Linked DNA regions of Homo sapiens: region 2 is linked to region 1. The links come from fine-mapping of genetic effects on gene expression. Tissue or cell type: visceral fat. Region 1 holds a variant in brackets; the other region holds the start of a gene. All regions are shown on one strand. Distances are from middle to middle.

What was found. PIP is the estimated chance that this variant, and not a neighbour inherited with it, causes the effect.
Region 2: it holds the start of FIGN, and the variant in region 1 is fine-mapped to the expression of FIGN in visceral fat (GTEx, PIP above 0.99). The same link has a PIP of 0.9 or more in nucleus accumbens, ovary, sun-exposed skin, thyroid, tibial nerve and unexposed skin.

Annotation. Positions count from the first base shown.
Region 1 is chr2:163,610,012-163,621,661 of GRCh38, reverse strand. FIGN (fidgetin, microtubule severing factor) reads left to right here. Exons shown (of 3, transcript NM_018086.4): 3 at 9,856-11,650. Among named protein-coding and RNA genes, the nearest start is that of FIGN, 120 kb to the left of the region's middle. RefSeq lists an enhancer at 1-138. The variant C/T (reference allele first, on the strand shown) is at 6,976.
Region 2 is chr2:163,729,892-163,742,302 of GRCh38, reverse strand. It overlaps FIGN (fidgetin, microtubule severing factor), which reads left to right and starts at 6,295. Exons shown (of 3, transcript NM_018086.4): 1 at 6,295-6,465; 2 at 7,231-7,400. The coding sequence starts at 7,376. It overlaps LOC107985957 (a long non-coding RNA gene), which reads left to right and starts at 8,362. Exons shown (of 2, transcript XR_001739759.2): 1 at 8,362-12,411. RefSeq lists enhancers at 4,656-5,171, 5,172-5,688.

The sequences.
Region 1 (11,650 bases):
CACCAGGTCTATTTCACTAGAAGGGGGCAGGGTGGGGAAAATGAAGAGGTGAGGAAACTACTGCTGTTGCTAAGAGCTTCTCACTTTTAATCCTAGGCTGTGCTGGTTGTATTCTAAATCAGTTTATCTTCTTACAACGTCTTATTTGGAAAAAAACAACACGTAACCTACCAAAACTCATTTCATATGTAGCTTTTTCCACTACTTTCATATCAAAGTTATTTTCTTCAGGCTGGACTAAATTATACACAGGTCCCAGGAGTGAAGGACACTGAATTAATGCACTATGTCACCCAGCCCTGACTATAGAATTTTTTTTCGAAGTCCAAGACACTATTTTGCTATTGCATTAAAAATTAATGCACGAATTGCCAAAAAGAGAAAAATGCATAAATAACCCAAACAAATTTTGTCTGGGCTTTGCATACTTTAGAGTCACCTAAAGCAAAGTTTTTAAGGAGAATGGTTGAACAGTTTTACCCTCAACATGTGAATAACATTCTTACTCTTTTGTCTAATTATATGAGACAGTGCTCAATCTTACATAAGCAGACTTATATATCTATTTTGTCTTATGTAAACTGTCTTTTTAGAGTATGGTTCCAGAGGAACACAGAGAAGTAGATGAATGCAAATTTCATTTTAAGCAAGGTTGTGGGGTTTGGAAGATTTCTTAATTTGTTTATTGACCGTTTTCAGCTTGGTGTGTTGGGCAAAACATGAATAGAGTTCAGTTTAAATATAACTAAATTGGGCTTTGCATTTAGATAGTTGAAATGGAACACACACACACACACACACACACACACAAATATTTACACAGAGTTATATGTGCACCTAGTGGTTAGTATACCATTTTAGGATTATGATTGATGAAATATACTAGCCATGTCATAATTCAAGGTTGGTATCATGCCAGATGTTTCTTAAATAAAAATGCAAATATATTTTGTACGGCAAAACAGTATTTTGAGAATCAACTGGAATAACCTCAGACTTTTAGGATGATGATAATTATTATCTCTGCAAAATATTTTAAAAAATAAAGATTCAAAACACTCAGAAAATGCAAAATACTTTTGGCATTTAGTACTCTGTTTATGGATCAATCATACAGGCTGGATGCTATGAATATAGCATGGGGCTCTCAGGTTGTGTTAACCCCATTTATCCCTGCATGCTACAGCTCACCTGTTATTTACACACATAAGAGGGTTGATACTGCAGAACAAGGGTAGTGCTCTGTTGTGACACAGAACATACATATTCATTAGCCACTGCAGTCCCTATGGACATACGTGGTATGTCCTGATGATCTGGGGGGAAGGGTAGATGGCCTTAATGGATTGAAAAATGTATACGGAAAAAGGAAAGAGAGGGCATAAGAAATGAAAGGCTGCAAAGTAACAACTTTAAAGGTTAACTACAAAGTGCTATTTAAACTGATTATAAATTGTCTAAAATTCACAGAGGTAGCATAAACAAAATAACAGTTTTTAAATATGGGAAAATCAGCCCTTTTACCTCAGACTCTTTCCCTTACAATAGTTAATGACACCTGACACTTAGGAAGATTCAGAGTGTGAATTATTTGTATATTTTAAATTGCATGTACACGCATCCTCATGTATCCTTCTGAATAACTTACCATAGAATATACACAGTTTTGTACACTTTTTTTTACTTGGTTTTAGATTATTATTCAAAAATTTTACACAGAAACATTTACAAAACCTACCCCCTACCCCCACACAGAAATCATAGATCTAAGTTATAATTTTAAACTATGTGGATTTGTGTGTGAGCATGATAATATGTTCACTTGTATACTTTAAGTATAGGAAATTTTAAGGGAAAAATTACTTGTTTGAATTATGATCATGATTTCCTGGGTTGCTTTAAATGATATGGTTTCTGTCCTGATCATATAGTGAATCTAGGCTCAGTGGTCTAAAAATGATATTTCTTTCATCACTGTAATTTGCTTTGCATAATGCTTATGCATTCATTCTCATAAATGCAAGCCATTTTATTGCATATTAAAAATAATGACCAATCAGACCCATGCATATCAAGTTTTATCCACCACATGAAATTTTGGCAAAAATAGTCACCGTTACACTTGGTCATATTTGTTGGGTGAATATTTTCTTGCTATGGATACAATTTAATGCATTGTAGAGAACCCAATTCAGATCATAAGCTACCTACAAGTTTAGTTTAAACACAGAGTATATATTAATACCATCCTAGTCCAAGTCATGGTGCCTGTAACATTAAATACAGGCTTTTATGAAGCCCAAAATAAAGACATTTAGACAACAAGATCTGTTGCTTACCTGCGTACCATCTACCCAACAACTTTCTGTAGGAAATAAGAAGCATAACTTTGGAGTAGCTTAAATAACCTTATAAAAGTTGTACTAATGCTCGTGTATTCAACTAATAGGAGATGCTTCACTCACTGTTAAATTAAGCTTTGGTTTGTGGTATCAAACATACAGCACATTAGGAATGGTGAAAATGGATAGGAAAATAGCAAAAAATAATATCTGACAAATTAGAGCAAAAGGGGGAACACTGAAACAGCATCTGAGACCAGTTTTTTAAGATACCATTCATTATTCATCATTCCACACTGTTGTACTAATGACACTGTATCAATAAGAAAGTTATCAATTATTTCCCACGTGTTGTGTTGTAAGAGGGTAGGGAGGTTCTCTTATCATAAAAAAAAGTATTTGGAAAATGTTTTTAACTTTTAGAGCTGAATACTTTCTAGATTTCAAGAAAAGGTATGTAAGTTAAGAAACTGGAGTTGAAGCTCTAAAGTGGAGTCCTAAATTTAAATGCCTGTGTGACCTGGTAGATACCATGAAAATACCTGACATTGTCAGGGGGTAGGAGCACCATGACAAAGTGGAAAGGGTAGGATATGCCCCAAGGAGGGAGCTGGTCCCCAGAATCGGACAGCTGTTGCCAGGCACGAATGAAGTGTTGTAAGATCTTGTCTGAAAAATGGGAAATATGGAAATACAGATTTTTTTTTTTGAGACGGATCTTTTAAAACATAAAGTCGAGTGATTTTTAAAGCCCTGTGCTGGCCAAACCAAACACAGTTGCAGGGTATATGTTACCCTCAGGCTGTCAGATTGCAATTTCTCTGTAAGAGGGTGAGGTATCTGAACTATATTTACTAAGACCCATTTAGCCAGAAATGCCTTCATAATTGTTTAAAAAAAAAAAAGCATTGTTTTATGCAAATACAATGGAATGGGTTGAGAAGGCTGCTGCAAAATGTATTGTAATTTGGAGTCTTGAGGTGTGAAAATATGATTTAAAGAGAAAAAAGTATTTGACAGTATTGTTATATAATTAGAATATCTTATTTTGAAACTGCAGGTTTTAAAATGAGTTTTAACTAGTCTTCAACCTCTAAGTACTTTATTTCTTAGTTTTAATCTCTAAAATGTTGAGTCACAGGAAACATCAAAAATAAATAAAATACTTTGAAAACATTTGAAAATGTTGACACCTTTTTGATTAAAGAGATTATGCTCTTTGTTTTGCTCAGAATGAGAGAATTTCTGTATCTTTCTTGGAACCAACAGTCCCACTGGAAAATTTCATTTACAGTTGCTGTCCTGAGGTTGAAGGAAAACTGACTTATAAATTCTGGGAGTGATTTTACTTTTTTTCTGTCTAGCCAGTGTTGTTTTGTTTTGTCTTTAATGCACCCCTGGCCTTTTCAAAATAAAAGAATACTAAGAAATGTTTGTGTAGCAGTTCACAGTTGGGAAATAGTTTCACAAAATATTATTCAGGTAATCTTAATAGCAATACAGTAAGGTGAAATAATACCATTATTGTCCACATATCACAGCTGAGTGAGTATGATGTGCTTAAGCAACTTAACCAAGATTAGAATAAATAAGTGATGATGTAAGCAATGCTGCCAGTGGTCTTATTCTACAGGCTGGAATTTTCACCGTGAAACAAAATTCTTGAACCTTCTTTATGTTCCTTCAGTCCCTTTCTATCCCAACAATCTATCAATGGCTCCAAATAAAATACTATATTATGCAAAATAGTATCCAATCCTATAAGACATCATTATAAGTGAAACATCAATCGAAAAGTGAGGATGTCTGGAATGGTTAGGTCATTTTAAAGTTCTGTTAATCTCTAAAATCAAAGAGTCTAATTTTGGAGAATTTAGACTGTGAAATTGTGAAAAAGAGAGTTGAAAAGGTTTCATCACCTTATAGAAAATGGATCCTCCTTTTTAGCATTGAACCACAATGCTTTGTACATAGTTCATCTTTTATTGACTAAATTTAAAATTTGACAGCCCCTCTGTTACATTCAGCTTATAAAATCTTCTAATTTTGGTCCTCTAAAGATGGAACAAAATTAGGTAAAAATGATACGTAATTTCAGTGCTTCTTCCTCACTTTTTTCCCTTTCTGTTACTTGTAGATTTTATGCCATATTTTAAAGCCAAGAATGATCGGGGAATGGGCTGAAGAAATTTCCAGATCAAATGAGTTAGTACTAGTAATACTAGATAATGCTGTGTTGGCCTCTTGGCTTATGAGGATGAGTAGACAAGGCTGCATTAGTCTCCTCAAACATTTCATTTGGTCATCACTCCCATTGAAGAATGATAATAAGTAGATATTGCACAGGGCCAGTTTGCAGTGCCAGGAGGTGTACAATCCTTCTTTCAGAAGGTTCTTCACTGCATAGACCTGTATTTTTAGCCAATGAATTTTCTACTTTCTACTGGAAATTTTGAATGCTCTGTATGTTAGTTCTGCCATTTCCAACCCAAGAGATGATAAATCTGTTGCATCAGAAAGAAGAGGCTGTAAAGTATTATAATTACTTTACAGTATTTACCCCAGTAGTGATTGTTTTTCAGAGAAACCCTTGCTAATATTATATTAATTTTTTTAATGTTAAAAAATAATGAAAGGTTCAGAGGTGCAATAGCTCAAAGAAATGTAATAGGTGTAGTAATGTTGTCATGCAGGCCTGTGTGAGTGCTATGCATCTGTTTTAGAGCAGGCAAACCTGCCATGCCTGCAGGTGTTTGCCTCAGGTCCCTGCCCTTAGGAAGTCTGAGAAAACCTACAAATGAAGGCAGAGCCCCTAGCAGCCAAAATTACCCTATGGGAACATTGTAAAAGGGAGTAACTATTTTAGACCTGATGAACTGTTGAATAGTACACGTATATAAGGAGTGGGTTGGGTAGTGAGTGCCTCACATTGATATTTCTATGAATATATGCTAAAAACAGATTCTAGAAGACCTAACCTTTTATTTCCAATTTTCCTCTCATTTTGAAAGTTGCTTTTATACCCTTCATTTTTCTATATTACTGTTTAAAATTTTATAGCTGTGGCAGAACTTCAGAGGATGCTATAGTTGTTTTGTTTCGAAACTAGTTAAAGAGCAAAATGGAAAAAGTAAAGCAACAAGGCAGTAACTGGTTAGTAATTAAACCTAAGTTATCAAATGGTCAGTAATGGTAAGAATGGCAAATGTTATCCGTACTATCCAGTTATATAGGAAATATGGATTTGTTCATTTATATATACATGGAGTCATCCCATAACAATAAAATAAGAACAATGCTCAGATGTTTTACTCTAGTACCTGTCATTCCTATGTAACACTTAAATTATCTTAAAAGCAATTTTCTATTAGATTGTGTATTTTCAAAAAACACGTTGCATGATGAAATTTGCCAGCTGTATTAAGATTTTTCTGATCCTTTCAAAAGTAAAAATTGATGTTTTGCAACAATTCTTCAATTATCTTTAAAAACTATTTTTCTTACTTTCCACTGTTTTCTGAATTTTTACTGTACCTATTTAAACTATTTCCAAACAACAGTAGGAGTTATTGTTCTAAAGTCATGCTTCTAATAATGTTAAAATAGTATTGTTTCTGAGATCCATCTCCATGTTCTGAAGAGAAACCATATAAAAGCTGTTTTTAAAACTCAACCCATTATTTGAGTGCCAAGTTAAGTGACACAGGTGTATTGCTTCTGACTCACACATAATTGCAATACAGTCAAACAAAGCAGGATGTTTTTGTTGTTCAGAAAACATTTGGCTCTGTGGTTTTGTTCCATTTCATATCAGAAATAGCACCACCAATAAACACAATAACAATAACAACAAAAAAATAAATTTGGTTACCAATTTCCAGTTAGTGTTAAAATTCAAGGAACCAACCAAAAGGCTCTGTACTTCGAAGGCCAAGACAATCTCCTGAACACTGATTTCCTCAGCTCCTGCTAATATCAAGAATTAGTTTGTGGTTAGATTAGCTTATGCTTTTAAATAACATTAATGATTTTAAAGCACTGGATAAATTCTCGTTTCAGGGGATATGAACAAGTCCATTGCCTTGTATTTAAACAAAATACAATTTTGCCTTTTGCAGCTCTGCAAAGGTTATTGTTATTTACTATGCATCAATAAATAATCTTTCAATTATCTTGTAAGCACATCCAAAAATAGCATGACAATCAAAAGGCAATGGTGTATCCAGTAATTGTTCCAAATAGATAATTTTGATAAATATGATCTTTGCTTAATTTCAGGTAAAAAAGAAATCTTACGAAATTTAGTTTTGCTAGACTTAAACCATGCAAAAATACCCTATGAAATGGACACTCTATTTAAACTGTATACTACTGTCTTTTACAGTGATTATAACTTATTAAAATCATTTTTTCATCTCTTGTATGAATAATATATTTACAAGAAAACATTACTTAAGCTAATACAGGTGGGGGGTTCCCACCTCCTGTGTTTTTTTAAAAAAATAAGCAGTTTCATTTGAGTTAAAAAGTATATTTCTTTATAATATTTGTTATGTATGTTTATTAACTTATGCTAACAATGGCTTAGCTCAGCAAACTGAAAGGAAGCCGTCCTTTAACTTATGTGTGCGTA[C/T]GTATGTGTGTGTGTTGTGCTAAATTCCATTGCCTGTACTTCTAAATTATTTGTTGAGCCCTTTAAGACTTTTTTTTTCACGTTTTTCTGTATCAAACTAATCACATTTATACTCACAGCATATGTGTGTTCTTATTTTCTCTACTCTGTATTTTGATAATATTTTAAAGAAAAGAACCATAATAGAAATTCCCTAGAAATAATTTACAGGACTAATGAATTTGTAGGTCTCTTAGACAGTTCTACATTACAGTCACATTAATATTCTCTCCTTTTTATAAGGCTTGAAGTAAATCCCACGACACTAGAAGCATTTAGATACTGATTACTTGCGATTGGTTCCTGGTGATTTGCTCTTAATAATTTCCAGTTGAATTTAATGAAAGTATGATTCCTGAAATGCTGCTTCATTAAAATTGCAGCTTTTCCCCTTTAAGTGTGGTTTCGGTCATTTCACCCATTTTGCGGTGTGTTTTCCTCCCCCTTAAAAAGTAATGATTGAGAAAGCAGAAATAATTAAGAATACCACTTTAGTTCTCCCTGGAACTCATCCTCAGAGTTTCTCTGAGTGAAATGATGCAAGCTGCATTTCATCAGGATTTTATAATACTATTTTCCCATTCAATGAGATTATTTAATAATATATAAAGTTTTAAAACATAAATATGAATTTTGGGGGTAGTTGAGGGAAATTGAAGAAAGAATCTGTTGCATGTACAAGAGAACTGAGGTCTTTAGAATTTTTACTAATATGTATATACATATATTTAGGTTGATTAAGTTACACTGTGCAGCATTCAGACTTAATTTAACTGAGTTGTGATTTGCAAATGAATATCTACATGGATCCTTTTTAAAAATCAAAATGCAAATGAGTACAATTGCAGTAAAATATATTTGCAAATGAATCCTGTTGCTTTATTCATTTATTGTGTAATTACTGCAATCCTTCCCACCTTGTTTTCAGTATTTCTTAATCATTAAGTCGGAAGCATGACAGCAGTGCCAGCCCTGGCATGATTCTCTTTGACTAAAACCTTGTAAATTAACACAATTAGCACAGCATCATCCTGCTAATTAACTTCCAGTGTCTGGTGCAGTGGTTTTGCAAACAAGGAAGAGGGAGTCAGAAGGGAATCAACATGCCATTCTGTTACCAAACTGTGTGTTATGTTCAGTTTATCGCAGTAAGTCAGAGCCGGCCATGTCAGAAGCCAGAGTCAGGCAATGAAGAGCCACAGAGCTTGGAGGAAGAGCACAGAAGGGGGTAGAAACTGACAAAATAGACTGTAGTAATTCAGAAGGGGGTTGATGCCACAGATGCTTCATGTAGACCAGGCCTCCTCCTTATCAAGGCATCTCTGCCAGAGGGCACAAGACAGTTTGCAAAATTCACTTTGGGTAATACAAAAAAGATGAAGGAGAGATGCTTAATATAGCTGTACCAGAATAGGAAGTGTTAAACCAAGCAGAGATTAGACTGAGATGAGCCAGCAATGGGAAAAAGGAGAACAGGGTACCAGTCCTCTTCTGTAACTAACTGTATGTGAGACCTCGAGGGTACATTATAAATCGCTTTGGGCCCTGGTTTCCTAATCTGTGAAATAAAGTAATTTCTAAAGTCTCTTTACAATTTAAAATTCAAATTATTCTGACTGCTTAGTATTTTTTTCTTAAATGAGAAAATGCTCATTTTGTAGTTTGCTACATAGTCAACTTTGCTTCACTTAGTAACCCAGCAGATGATAGAATTACCCAGACCATCTCATTATCTACTTGTACTCCTCTAGCGTATGCCCTACGTGGTTTCCTATAGAAATTGAAAGAGTTAGAATCCAGAATCTCTCTCCATTCTTATCTTCCCTTTCCCCTCAGTTTCCTTTCTCTCTCTCTCTCTCTCTTTCTCTCTCATATATAATATATATATATATATATATGAAGATGTATAAGACAGGATGTGTATAAATACACACACACACACACACACACACACATTCTCCCCTCTTAGTACCTTGCAGGCTGTAAGGGGAGGAGGGATTATAAGAGAAGGAGGGAGAACGCTAGAAGACCGACAGACAAGTGATGCTTGTTTTTTTTTTCAGAGACTCAACAACAGAACTGAGAGGCAGAAAGGAGCCAGTTGTAATTCATACCGAGTTGTAGGCTTTGTGCGATGAAAGCGATGGAGCGCTGCCTGGGAGATTGCTTTGCTGCACTCCACGAAGCAGATTTGAAACTGTCGTGGACCACTTTAGATGAGAGTTGGATTATGGAATGACCTGCTATGTCTGTGTCATATTGTTCTGCGCAGGGAGCATTATACTGTGCTAACTAGGTGTTCAGTACCAAATAAGAGAGGTATCCTAGATGTGATCTGTCAGCTGTGTCTCATTTTTATATTGCTTAAAATGTAAAACAAACTGTGATGTGAACAGACAGAATAGCTAGATATTGTACATGTTAATACTGCCATGTGCAAGATATTTAAAATGTCTGCTTATTTTAAGAACCTATGATTGAATTCTAATTTGACAGGAATGTGTGTGTACATATATATGTGATTGTGTATGTGCGTATAGTAGGTAAGCTGATGGGCTTGACAGAAATAGATTTACTTATTCCTTACAAATGCAAAAAATATAGGTAACTACAGAGTTATATTTTAAACTCAGTGTGCTTTTTAAACAGGGCTGAAGTTTAGTCCATTTTAAAGAGTACTTATTATAGGGATCATAATAGGTATTATAAACAGTGTAGATCTTTTAAAGTATGCATATCATTAATGGAAAATAATAGGTAACAAAAGAAATTGGGGGAAAAGCTTTAAGAGTTCTGATGCCTATTTAAGTAAATTAACTCTTTTCCCCCCAAAATTCTTAGGCTTGAAGATGCAGTGGACGCCAGAGCATGCCCAGTGGCCAGAACAGCACTTTGACATCACCTCAACCACTCGGTCTCCTGCCCACAAAGTTGAAGCCTACAGAGGTCATCTGCAGCGCACCTATCAGTACGCCTGGGCGAATGATGACATATCTGCTCTGACTGCATCCAACCTACTAAAAAAATATGCAGAGAAGTATTCCGGCATTTTGGAAGGTCCTGTGGACCGACCCGTACTCAGCAACTATTCGGACACACCATCAGGACTAGTGAACGGTCGGAAAAATGAAAGTGAACCCTGGCAGCCTTCCTTGAATTCAGAAGCTGTTTATCCCATGAACTGTGTTCCGGATGTTATCACTGCCAGCAAAGCTGGAGTCAGTTCAGCCCTCCCTCCAGCAGATGTCTCTGCGAGTATAGGAAGCTCTCCTGGGGTAGCCAGCAACCTGACAGAACCTAGTTATTCAAGTAGTACCTGTGGAAGCCACACTGTACCCAGTCTTCATGCAGGGCTCCCATCTCAGGAATATGCCCCAGGATACAACGGATCATATTTGCATTCTACTTATAGTAGCCAGCCAGCACCTGCACTTCCTTCACCTCATCCGTCTCCTTTGCATAGCTCTGGGCTACTACAGCCCCCACCACCACCTCCTCCGCCACCAGCCTTGGTCCCAGGCTACAATGGGACTTCTAACCTCTCCAGTTACAGCTATCCGTCTGCTAGCTATCCTCCTCAGACTGCTGTGGGGTCTGGGTACAGCCCTGGGGGGGCACCGCCTCCGCCTTCAGCGTACCTGCCTTCAGGAATTCCTGCTCCCACCCCCCTACCCCCCACCACTGTTCCTGGCTACACCTACCAGGGCCATGGTTTGACACCTATTGCACCGTCGGCTCTGACAAACAGTTCAGCAAGTTCTCTCAAAAGGAAAGCTTTCTACATGGCAGGGCAAGGAGATATGGACTCCAGTTATGGAAATTACAGCTATGGCCAACAGAGATCTACACAGAGTCCTATGTACAGAATGCCCGACAACAGCATTTCAAACACAAATCGGGGGAATGGCTTTGACAGAAGTGCTGAAACATCATCCTTAGCATTTAAGCCAACGAAGCAGCTAATGTCCTCTGAACAGCAAAGGAAATTCAGCAGCCAGTCCAGTAGGGCTCTGACCCCTCCTTCCTACAGTACTGCTAAAAATTCATTGGGATCAAGATCCAGTGAATCCTTTGGGAAGTACACATCGCCAGTAATGAGTGAGCATGGGGACGAGCACAGGCAGCTCCTCTCTCACCCAATGCAAGGCCCTGGACTCCGTGCAGCTACCTCATCCAACCACTCTGTGGACGAGCAACTGAAGAATACTGACACGCACCTCATCGACCTGGTAACCAATGAGATTATCACCCAAGGACCTCCAGTGGACTGGAATGACATTGCTGGTCTCGACCTGGTGAAGGCTGTCATTAAAGAGGAGGTTTTATGGCCAGTGTTGAGGTCAGACGCGTTCAGTGGACTGACGGCCTTACCTCGGAGCATCCTTTTATTTGGACCTCGGGGGACAGGCAAAACATTATTGGGCAGATGCATCGCTAGTCAGCTGGGGGCCACATTTTTCAAAATTGCCGGTTCTGGACTAGTCGCCAAGTGGTTAGGAGAAGCAGAGAAAATTATCCATGCCTCTTTTCTTGTGGCCAGGTGTCGCCAGCCCTCGGTGATTTTTGTTAGTGACATTGACATGCTTCTCTCCTCTCAAGTGAATGAGGAACATAGTCCAGTCAGTCGGATGAGAAC
Region 2 (12,411 bases), 120 kb before region 1:
CACACACACAAACACACACATATATATATGGTTTTTTTCACACTACCTATTACTAGATCCTTGTTTGTAAAAAAAAAAAAAAAAAAAAAAAGAAAGAAAGAAAGAAAAAAACTTGTGCCAGGCTGTAGTATTTTATGACCTACATTATTACCCTCTGGGTAGTGAAATGATGGTGCCAAACTAATTATTGCTTTGTCTAATTTTAAATCCAGGTCTACGGAGATTAACAGCTTGCACATTAATTCAAAGCACCAACAGCCCACCTAACCTAATGCTGTTTTAAATGAATTAAAAGCCCTGTTTAGGAAACTTTAATACTTTAATATACTTTAAATGAAGGAAATGTGCATCTATATTTTTATTCAGTTTATAAAAACCAAATTCACTTTGCTTATTTTGCTTGTTCAAACATACTCCAGGGAGGAACTTTCTTTATCTTCAGGCATTACTTCTCTTGAAAATGAAATATCTTCTAAGCTTGAAAGCACGGTCTGAGTGGAACTAATTGTAAAGTGGGGGTGGTAGTGGGGAGAGAGAGGCAGCGTGAGTAGAAAGACCATGTTCAGGTAGAGGGAAAAAATTCAATTTCAACGTATTGTCCCTTTTTATATCTTTGACATTAAATGAATGCCTTTAAACACACTGACATTTTGTAATATTACAAAATGAACGTGCAGAATTGAGCAATCAATACAAACAGATCATCTATAAAAAAGGCAAGGAAGCATATCACCAAACCTACAAGAAGGACTCACAGTTTGGGGGACTAGAAAATGCTAGACCATTGCAATAACTTCCCTCCTGGTCTCCCCATTTTCAGGTCTTTTAGCTCTATCTTCTTAAAGCAGGGTTCAGCCCACATAAATCGCTTTCTTACAAACCTTCCAGCACTTTCTGTTAACTGCCTACTGAAATGAAAACCTCTCAGGCTGGGACTCAGTGAAGTTCCTCTGCAATACATCCCCAATTCTCATTTCCATCCTTATTTCCCATTCTGTGCCTGTGGAAAGCAAAGGGTCAACCAAACTAGATTATATGCTATTTTGGGCAAATACTTCTACAGTTTCCTTTCAATTTGTCTTTGCTCATATCTATTTCCTCTACTTGTCAATTCATTAATTTCCCCAGTAAGCATGTATGTTGAATTATCCCAATTAATTTAGGCATGGAGGAAAAACAAAGATGGAAGATAATTGCCTGCCCTCAAGAAGCTCAAAATCTAATGCAGGAGTGAAAGACATGAACACCCTTAAAATGATGTGAGGGTACAAAGAGAGAAAGAGAAATAGAGTCCAAACAGGGGAAAGATACTTAAGTGCCTCTAGGAAGGTTGGGGTGTGGGTTGGAGGAGCTAAGTGCTGAGTGTCTTAAGGGAGTTCGCCCACAGAAGCGGAGAGGAAAAGTCAATTCAGGCAGGGGGCACACTGTCAAGCAAGGCATAGAGAGGAAAAACAGCACAGTTTATGCAAACTATAAGTGGTCTGTTTTATTGGTGCATAACAATTGCTATGAGAAGGCCAAGTGTGGGGGCTCACTTCTGCAATCCCAGCACTTTGGGAGGCCAAATCAGGAGGATCACTGCGGTCTAGAAGTTTGAAACCACCTTGGGCAACAGAGTGATATCTGTTCTCTGCAACAAATAAAAATTAAAAAAAAAAAAAAGAATAGATTGCTGTGACAAAGTCTAGAAAAACTGTCCTGTCCTTCACAAAAGAACTCACAATTTCCTCTAGACAGAACTCCTTTATAACTGCACTTTCTATCATTCACTTTGGGCTATATTTATCTGGCTTCATCCATAAAATGTTAAGGTCACTTTTCTTCAAATCCTCTGCAATTTGTAGTGTAGTACTTTTAATTATATTAAGCATTGAATACTTTCTAAATGAAATTGAGAACCATGCAAAATCAGGCAAAAGTTCCAGCAAATATACACACACTATAAATATATGTGAATTTAAAAATGTAATACTCAGGTTAATAGAAGAAAGCAAAACATCTTAAGTGAACCCATCACAGGATTTTCCAGTTTGTCTCTACTGTAGAGCTAGATCACTGAGGAGATGTATGAACCACACTAATATCCTTTGACAGTACCTGCATTTGAGTGTCATTCTGAGCAAATTGAGTAATTTTACTCAATGAGGTCATGATCTTCACTAGCTTTTGTGGTTTTTTTTCTTTCTTTTTTTCTTTTTTTTTTTTTAGGGGAAAGGGTGGTACATAAGGACTTCTTAGTAACTTTATTGAAGTGAAAATCATGACCCTTATACTGCAATTTTATGGAAGCATTAAAAAATTATCTTGTCACTAATTTGCATTATTGTAAGAACTACCTCAGATTTTTGTGAGTAATATGAAAGAAAAAGTCTAGTTTCATAAACAGCTACTAAGTTCTAGAATGTGTTTTGAAACCCAGGAGTTTGGAAGAATATATTATTAGTTTAATGTTTTATTAAAATATTTAACATTTAAGTTCAAAACTAAAAAACAATATTTGAAAAATTAAATTGAATTGCGTTTAGCATTTTATGAAAAACTATACATGATAGCCCTCCAAACTTCTTTCCTTAAAGCATCTTGTGACCTACATCTCCCTCATCTTTTCTACCCGCTGTCTACCTTCTGCCTCCACTGATTTTTTTTCCTTTCCTTTCCTCTCCCATCACTTAGGTAAAGCACATCTCTGTGTCCAGCCTAGCTCATATTTTCCTTAGTCCAGTGCAGACAAGTCTATGGTCATTTGCAAAATCACATTCAGTATCACTTTGCTTATTCCCTTAACCTTCACTTTTGTTGTTGTTGCTTACATTATTTTGAGAAGAAAAAGCAGAAAAAAGTAGAATTCCCCTCTGAATTATCTTGAAAGGAAGGCATACACACACACACTCCTGAAGAAGAGTTATGTTGATTTTTCTTCTGATTTTCTTAAAAAGCACAAGTTTGAGTATACTGTGTATTAGAATTTCACATATTAGTCAAAATGTTATGCATTATAATGTCTGTGCATTTAAAAAGTAAAATAGAAAGAGAAATGATATTGCTAATAGAGTGGGAAAAATTAGTCAAATTTATTATTTTCTGAAATAACTGTTTCCCTGACTAGCCAATCAACTTCCTTTAAACACTCAATATTTAATTCTCATGTTATATCAAGAAGTTTCAAAAGATATTATAGAGATGGATGTCAGCTACAGCCAGAAACATTTCTTTTGATTAAAAGTTTTGAAGATAAATGCATACAGAATATGATGACTGTTAAAGTGCTTTTTAATCATACCACATAATTAAAGATAGTTTTATTAAAACAACAAAAACTGAACATCGCAAACAATGCCATGAATCTCTGTGGAAAAGAAAGTCAAGTTTTATTTTCCTTTGCTTAAAATAATTGGAGAAAAGCAACTTTTACCTATACTTAAAAAAAAAGGGAGAAATAGTGCAATGACGAACTCTCCTGTGTATCTTATTATTATGGAAGTCCCATAATGTATATTCTATTATGTAAGTGTCTTTTATTCCCAGAGTATATGTAATTTTGAACAATTTAGAAACTCTGTACCTCTATCCAGTGCTCTTTTGAACAGTTTTCCAATTATTTGATTCCAAAGTTAATTATATTTATTTGCATGTTGAATGATTTTTTTATAATGTGTATTTCAAATGAATCTATAAGGGAATTGGAAAGGTACAGTTATTATCTATTAATAAACTCTTGCTGACCACACTTTTTCCTCCTCTTTTTAAAGAGCAGGGGTTGTTTTATTTTAGATATTACAGATGAATGGCTTTAAGTCTGTCATCAAAATACATTGTTTTTATATTCAGTGGGCACTGTATTATATATTTTATTCACTATTTGAATTTACACAAGGAACTGTAAATTCAACGCTAGGATTTAATGTTAAAGGTTGATGAGCTCTGAACTTTTTTAACAAACAAGAACAGAGCAGTTTTGCCCGAATTGCACAGAGCATCTGCTGTGTGTCCAGAGGACTTTTGGTCGTCATTCCCCAAATGGGCAATAACTGCGATTATGAGCGCTTCACAGTTTTTTTTTTTTTTTTTAATTCATCTGTACTCAATCCAACAGTGACCCACAGATATTTCCCTACACTTATTTCTTTGTGGTAAAATCCAATGAACAACTTTTCGTAATATCATTTTCAAAGCCATCTTGTAAAATATAACTAAAGAGGTTTCAGTGTTCTCTGTTACATCAGAATAAAGTTCTTCTGTTTTATTTCGAAGACTCCTTTTTTAAAAAATTCACAGAAAGGTCAAATCCATTCCAAATAGAAATCTCATTGCTTAGAAATATTTCTTAGGATCTCGAATCACTCTTTTTTTGTCTTTTAAATTCTGTCATCTGCCTAGATTTAACTGAAATAATTTTTATTTCTCAGTGTGTTAGCTAAAGGCATCCATTCAAAGGTAAGAACATCATAAAAGGTGAATGGAATTAATTTCAAAGTATATATTTGGCATTTTTAAAGAGCTGCATTTCAGCATCTGGAGAGCTGCAATTTAGGCTATCAAATCTACAACAGAGAAGCTGGGGGAAATGTGAACACCCTTATGAGGAGGGTCAGTCCTCAGCAAGTGCATTTTCGGTTCCAACCTTCAAAGGTAACATTTTCAGCTTGATGGGCTCCTGGTGGAATATATAATTTGCCTCTTTCATTCTTAGCTTCGTTGAAATATAGAAGACTGGATGTCTACCAGGCCAAAGTATAAACTCACCATTTATCTATTAAAGTCATATTTAATGAAAACGAAGAGAAATTATGACCCAATTCACTCTCTTTCTCATTACAATTCCTAAAGAACTTTGCCGGGCACATTATCTCGTAGACATCATGATCAAATGTTATTGTTTGCTTTATTATCTCAGTTGGATGGTTGGCTAGTCTAGAATGAAATAGGTTGAAGGCAATACTCTCAGCCTAGAAGTCTGAATGAGGTTCCCATTCAAATGATCCTGATTGTTTGCGGGTGGGGCGGGGTGATTAGTAAACCAACTGAGCTTACACTGCATAGTAAGCGTCTGGATGCCGCACATTTACATCTAACAAGAGACCCCAGAAAACGTGTGTGTGTTTCTTAAACCTTATGTTCCGAACAAAAGGCTATCTCAGCAACAGACAATCAGCACTGCATTGCTCCCTGGGATGCGAGCAACACACTCAACTGCACATTTCATTCTTCCTCGGCTCCCAGCACCACAAAGCCCCTACTCTCTTCCCACTCCTGGGTCCCCAGATTACTCCATAGAGGGGGGTTGGGAAGGCAGAAGCCTAACGTCTATGCCTGCGCACCAGCCGCCGACACCAGGGCCCCCCGGGCGCTGCTTTCTCCAGCCCGAGCCGCCTGGGGGAGGTAGGGAGGGGAGCCAGGGAGCGCGAGAGGGGACCGCACACCTAGACACTTAGGATTTTATTTATTCACAGGGAGGCGGGGGAGGGGAACTGGGCGAACGCGAATTTTCTCCCCGAAGTTGCCTCTTCTAAGCAGATCAAGTCGTTTTCTGGCTGGTGCTGGGGGCCCCGGGGAGGGTGCCGGTGAGGTCCAGGCTCTCGAGACCAGATCCCGTCCCGTGCGCAGAGGGGGTGGGGAAGGGCGGACGGGCCGCAGCTGTCGAGAGGGCCGGGAACCGGCAGGGAAGAGCCCGCGGGCCGGGGAGCAGCGCGGCTCTGTCCCGGGCCCTCCAACGCAGGCCGGGGAGCGCAGGGGCCGGCTGGTCACGCGTGGGAAAGAAAGCCCCCTTCCCCCTACGGCGCTGCTCCCCTTTCCCCAGGCTGGGCCGCCAGAGAGTGCGTGCAGGGAGAGCTGCGAGTCCCCGCGCGCGTAATCATGACCTCGGGGCCCCCTCCGGGCCGCGTGAGCGCATCGGCGAGGCTGGGCGGCCGCCGCGGCCCCGGCCGTGTAACATGACCCGAGCGGCCGGCCGGCCGGCGCGGCGCGGCCATTGAGCCCTCCCTGCCCATGAATCTCTGGCGCGTCTCTAGCTCGCTCGCCGGCTCGCCTCCCGCCTCCCTTTCTCCCCCTCCAGCTCCGCGGGCTCCGTGCGCCTCTCCCTCTCCCTCCTGGTCCTCCCGCTGCCCGTCTCTCTCCACTGCCCGCCTCTCGCCACTGCCTCCCGTCTTCTCTCCCTCACGGCAGCCTCCGTCTCTTTCTCCCTCTCTCCTTTGAAAACTGATCTTTGGCTCTTAGTGTGAAAGTGATTTGAATTTGGCTCTGCGGCGCTCTGCGCCTGCGCCCAGCCTCTGGCATGCTGGCTCCTTCCAAGCAGCTGTTTTGGGTTTGAAATTCCAACATGGCAGAGGCTGCAGTCCGTCTTCCCTTCAAAAACTTGGAATGATTTCAAATCATAGGCACCTTCACTTAACCCTAGCTTCCATTCATCAGCAAACACATCGGATCGATGCTACGCTAACCTATCGGGTTCTCTCTCCGCGCGTTCAGGTAAGAGGAGCTTCGTAGTTTTCTACCATCTGTTTAAATTTGTTTTTGTTTTATTTTTAAAGAATATAAATACATCCAAGACCTGTAATTAAAAGAGATCTTCAGTTGTGCCGTAAACATTAAATTCAATTTCCACTCGTTTCTATTCTGTACGCCAACCTGCTGTCTAATTTCTCTGTTCAAAGTAGCCCTGAAACATTATAATGCATATTTTTGCTGCTTAATCATTGTAACAATAGTATGGGATTAAGAGTTCGCGATTGCAAGAATCTCGCTTTTCGCTATATTGGGCTTACTTATTACTATCTTTTTACTTCAAAAATAAAAAAATAAGAAAGCGGAGCCATAGGGTGGGGCTAGACTTTCTTCGGGAACTAACTTCTAAGTAAATAAGAAGTGTAAATAAGAATCTTGCACACACACAAAAAGTTGAGGTTAAATTACAATCTCGTGGCTGGGGGAACGAGAAAATGTCAGAAGATCGGTTGCAGAAAAATGTAAGCACATCATCTAGGAGGGGGTACAGCGTGGTGGGCGTATTGTTGGCAAGGAACGGGAGAGAAAGATGTATAATTTAATGGTATATACAATCCACTGATCCTATTACCGTCCTCCCCGGAGCTCTTGTTAGTTTCAATGGGAGTGAGTGAAATTGACATGGACTTGCATTCCTGGTCATGTGCTTTTTTTCCTTTCTTTCTTCTCCTGTGATCTGAGATCCCCTTTTTGTTGATGTTGCTTTCCCCCTTAATTATATGCATGTAGGTTAAATGAATACCTGACGAAAGGGCCCACGTTTCAAGGCAGTGACATTTGATAGCTGAGAGGAAAAGTGGCTTTAATGAAAAGCAACCTTTGGAATTCCTGCTTGTGAGAAATCCAATTCAGCTTTTTGTGCTGCCAGCAAGAAATGATCAGTAGCACCAGTGTTTATGGTATGTCAGTTTTGGAATTTACTTCCTTTGCATCTAAATAGGAAAGACAAATGAAATAGCATGATAAAACCATTGAAGACTGCCTGGCAAGCAGTTGCTCATGATATAGAATTCCTTTTTTTAAAAAATATATGTTTAATGTCACCATGCTTTTTTTTCTTTTGCTATCACTTGTTTGTATATTGCAGTTTTGATTAATATATTACTTGAATCCACTTTTATCGGTTTTAGCTGTCATCCAGAAGTTGCACGTTACTAGTAATGCACTATATATATATAACTGCTGAAGTCAAATAGTATGTAAATTAGTTAAACTCAGTGTGGGTTTTTTTTTTTTTTTTTTTTGAAGGAGGGAGGCTGGGCAAAGGGGAGAGGGCAGGAGTGTTGGGAAAGATTACTAACTAATGAAAGTGTATCTATATATATGTACACACACAGGAACAGGACTGGATGAAAATTTTATTTTTCTCAATCTATTAATGCAGTTTGACTATCTGCTCTTGATGTTTGCACTTTGTGGAGTAATCAGTTCTTCTGAGTGTGGTTTTTTTTTGGGGGGGGCGGGTAAGTGAAGAGGTGTCTTTTACATGAAAATAAAAATTATATTTTGATTGTCCAAAGTCCTTGATGTCTTTTAAAGAGTAGGGATAGGTTTTTCTTCCCCCTTTCCATTCACTCGTCTGCCTGTCAGCGCTTTTTACTTTTAACTTGTGACAGAATTAAATAATCAGGCACTGAAATTGACTTCGTTTGAAATCGCTCTTTCCTTTCTTTACAAAAAAAAAAAGTCAGTTAAATGGAGTGAGAGGGGATTTTCAATAGCTCTTGTGGCAGTGCCCTGTGTACACTTTGTAATATTCAATTAAGACAGAGGGAACAACAACAACAAAAAGATGTTAAAGTATTTTGCATAACCAAAGGATATGTCCACTTTAGACTGTTTTTTTTTTTTTTTTTTTTGGTTGTTGCTATGTTTACCCCATGACCGTTAATTCCTCCTGAAAAGAGAGAAAGAAGGAAAGAGAGAATATGAAAAAAGAAATAACAGTGGGGCAAAGCTGCCAGGGGTCTGTAGTGTGGCCGTGGTCACTGCTCTCTCCTAACACAAATGTGAATACGAAGAGAGGAACTACAAGACCCGTTGCGCGACATACACGTCTGGTTGGACTCTGGTGACTATTGAGCTAAATACACACCACACTTACACGATAGGAAAGATTTGATTGAATTTTGCATTTGGAACTTGTTGACTTTGAAGCGATCAATAAGAAGACTGTTTATTTTAGATGCACATAATTTGCCCTGAGAAATGTTTTAAGGAGGAGAGAGCACAGCTTTTTTTCCCCCGGAGCTGTTGGAGCGAATGGGATTGCCAGATGGGCGATTTCCCTCTGTGATGTTAAAGCTGTAATATATATTCAGAGCAGATTGGGCTGCTGCCTGTGATGAGGAGGATATTACATTTATAAATTTTAAATCGGAGCTCGGACAATGTGCTGAGAGCAGAAATTGGATGGTTTGACTGTTCACCGTATTGATACTTAAATGTGATTTCTAGGTAGTACTAATAATAATCATTGCAATAATTCATGAAAAACATACTGGCATAGGCAATTATATAATTCATGACATTTAACAGCAGATTTGAGTGTGTAAATTGCCCCCCTCTTAAGTCTCTGCTTACTATTAAATAATAGTCACATAATTCATTTCCCTATGTTTAAATGTCCGATGTGCAAATGATGTTAACTTAGGAGCCTTGTTATCATATATTAGAATTCTAGGGGTGAAAGTTTACATACATATATATAAAGTAGACACTTGTGTATATGTATAAAGTGGCGTTACTGGCTCTTGTTTTCTAATTCTTTACTCTGATTATTTTTAGATTTTGTTTGTCTCAAATGTGCGGCCTAAAGGAACCAGAGCTACAAACCTAAAAGACTAGAAAGTGGGCAAGTGCTCACACTCTGGCAGCTCTGCTGTTGCAAATTAAAAGTGTGTTGTGGTCAGGAAATGAAAGCTACAATGTCTCTTTTGAACAAGTCGTTTATCAAGAGAAACATCTATCAGGGACTGCCTTGTCACATTGATCCTCTAAAAGTTAGGTCCGAGGTGGAAGCTGCTTTGATGTTTTTGATCCTAAATTTAATACAACAGAAAAAAAGCAAGGATATTTTGACCAGTATAGATTTTTAAAAATGTTTCCTGGAACCAACAAGATCTATTTATTAGGATTTCACTATGTGTGAAGTTTTCTGGACGTAACAGTTGAAAGGTTGAAGGGGAAATCCCAGACTTTATAAATTGATGATTGTTAGAATATACATTTATAATATATTTAGTGATGGCTGGCTTCTTGGTGCACATGGAATGGACGTTTTGAACACAGATTGTTCAAAAGGAAAATTATTTTGAAAGATTATTTTGGAAGAATATGTAGAGAGTCAAGAGTTTTTCATTCAAATTTTAGTTATCCTCTTCTGTTCTTCCTCTCTTTTACTCCTTCATGCTTGTTTCTTATCTTCATTATATTTGTGACAAATTAGCTTTTATTTGGAAAAGAAACATTATTTCTACAAAAACCATGTCCCAAAACATGCTTGTACACATCGTCTCTATTGTTTATTAATTGTGCATGTTTATGGTTATCAATATAAACTGCATGGACACATAAGTCCTTTGGAATTTCAGCTTAAAAATAGAGGTATCAGATTAAACATGCTATGTGTTCTTGAATAATGAATATGTTGTATGCATTATTTAAAATTGAAAAGGTATTGTTAGGAAAATGACCAAGTTGAAACAAAATTGTGAAAGCAGTTAGAAGCAGCCTGCTTCATTTTGGGAGGCAAAGATAGGAAAGAAGTGTTTCTTCTTTAAAATAGAGTTTTTGGATACTTGTCTTACACTGCTGGAGGCAACTTGTTATTTCATGTGGGTCTATCATCAAATAAGCAGGGAAGAGTAGGGTGGGAGTTTTGAGAAGTGTAATACTTGCTAATTAATCATGTCTGAAATGAAAGAATCATAGCAGGGTAATAAAGTCTCATTGTTGTTTTCCTGGAAGAGGGTAAGACTTCTGTTTGGAAGCTGTATGTGTGAGTTGATTTGCTTTTCTCTTCTCCTAAAAACACAGTTTATAGGGTCTCTTTGGAATTATTTCAAGAAACATCTTTTTTTTTTTTCTGAAAATAGAGTATTTTTCTTTCTCCTGGCTGTATTTCATCAGTAAGATTCTTAAAACAGTATCTGATATCTTCTGAGTGAAAATAGGGGGTTTTATTCTTTAGTTATATTTAAGACTCCTGTAGCTGAGTTTCCAGGGCTGATATTTTTTTCCTTCCCATAAATAGAAAATATTTTTTGTTTTTGTTTTTATTCATGTTAGGCAGGAACTTTGAAAACCTTTTTGTAGGTAGTTACTTCTGATAGATATACAAGAGTGCAGAAATTTCATTAATTACTTTTAGATGATAATATAAGAGTGTAACCAGAGAGAAGAAAATAGGTAGTATTTCCAAGAATCTATAGAGACCATCTGTATTATTACTTTGCATTTCTAAGATAGTTTAAGATATAAACCACCTGAAAAGATAAATGGGTAATTTCATTATAGGTTAATTATTTTTTCCTGAGCTTCTGGTTGTCACCTTTTAGAATTTAGTATCTTACTCAGGACATTCATAGGGACAGATCCACAAAGTTTGAGAGTCTGCACTGTTTTTCAGAATGTTCATGTCAAGGTGAAGACAGCCATGCTAATACTTCCCTGTTTTTGTCTGTGTGAGTGTTTGGATGCCTTGAATGATTGCCTAATTAAGTAATCACTTTTAGTGGCCCAAAATCAACAGAATTACTAGATGTATTTGAAACAATTGCAGGCTTTTAAGGTTTGAACTTTCTAGTTCTTAGAACCTTGGTTTAATAGAAATAGAAAGGTGCTATTTTACCTTTGATCAATATATTCTTGAGTGCAGATTTCACATACTACTCTTTATAAAGTACTGTGTTCATTGTTGAAGAGCAAATAAATTTAATTACCAGGAATTTAAATTGATTTATAAATTTTTGATTGGAAGAAACTATTCTGCAGATGTTTGTGTGAAATATTGACATATGCTACTGATCGATAGAACTTGATTAATCAGCATATCTGCTGTTTTTCTTGAGTCATTGATAAACTAGAATAAACAAATGGTTCAGAAAAAGCTATAAATTTTAACTCTCAATAAAAAATAAATGTATGTGTCTTTCTTTTGAGATATACAAGAGCTAGTGTTTTATTGAAATCAACTGAACTTAGAAATTATTTGGGGGTACCACTTAGAAGCTTACAAGTCCCAAAATTCTGCCTTTCAATTCACACACACACACACACACACACACACACACACAAACACGGAGCAAGAGAGAGAGATTGTACCTATATTATTGTTTATTGAAAATGAAAGAATTTTTTTGACACACTGCAAATAAATGGCCAGTTTAGCAAGTGCTTTCCATGGTTGGATTTTGTCATTTTCTTCTTTTTTTCCTAAACTTGAATTTTTAGCATTAACTTTTTCATTTAACTTCTGGCAGAAATTTTAAGCATAGCTGCTTTGGTATGATTGCTGATTACTAATCTTTTTGATATTTTTGATGTTATCATTTAAATGGCAATTTTCTTTCAGAAATGTTTATTTTAAAAAGTAAAATAGCAGGAATAAGGAGTATGAAAGAATATACTCAAAATAAATGGTACATTGAAGTTCGAAGCAAATCAAAAGCAAGGGGTATGCTAAGTTTCCTTAGGGCAGCACCACAGGTGCCTGCTCAGAAGCGCTGCCTCAATACAGCACATCCGTAAGTACCTGTTGACAACAGTAGTCTTAGCTAAGATACTGAGGAGGCAGAAAAGATAGGTGATCAGAAACCATCAAAACATGAGATATCATATGGCACTTTCTGTTAATAATATTTACATATTTTATGCAACAAATCTGCTTGTTGTCTTGTTATTTGAATA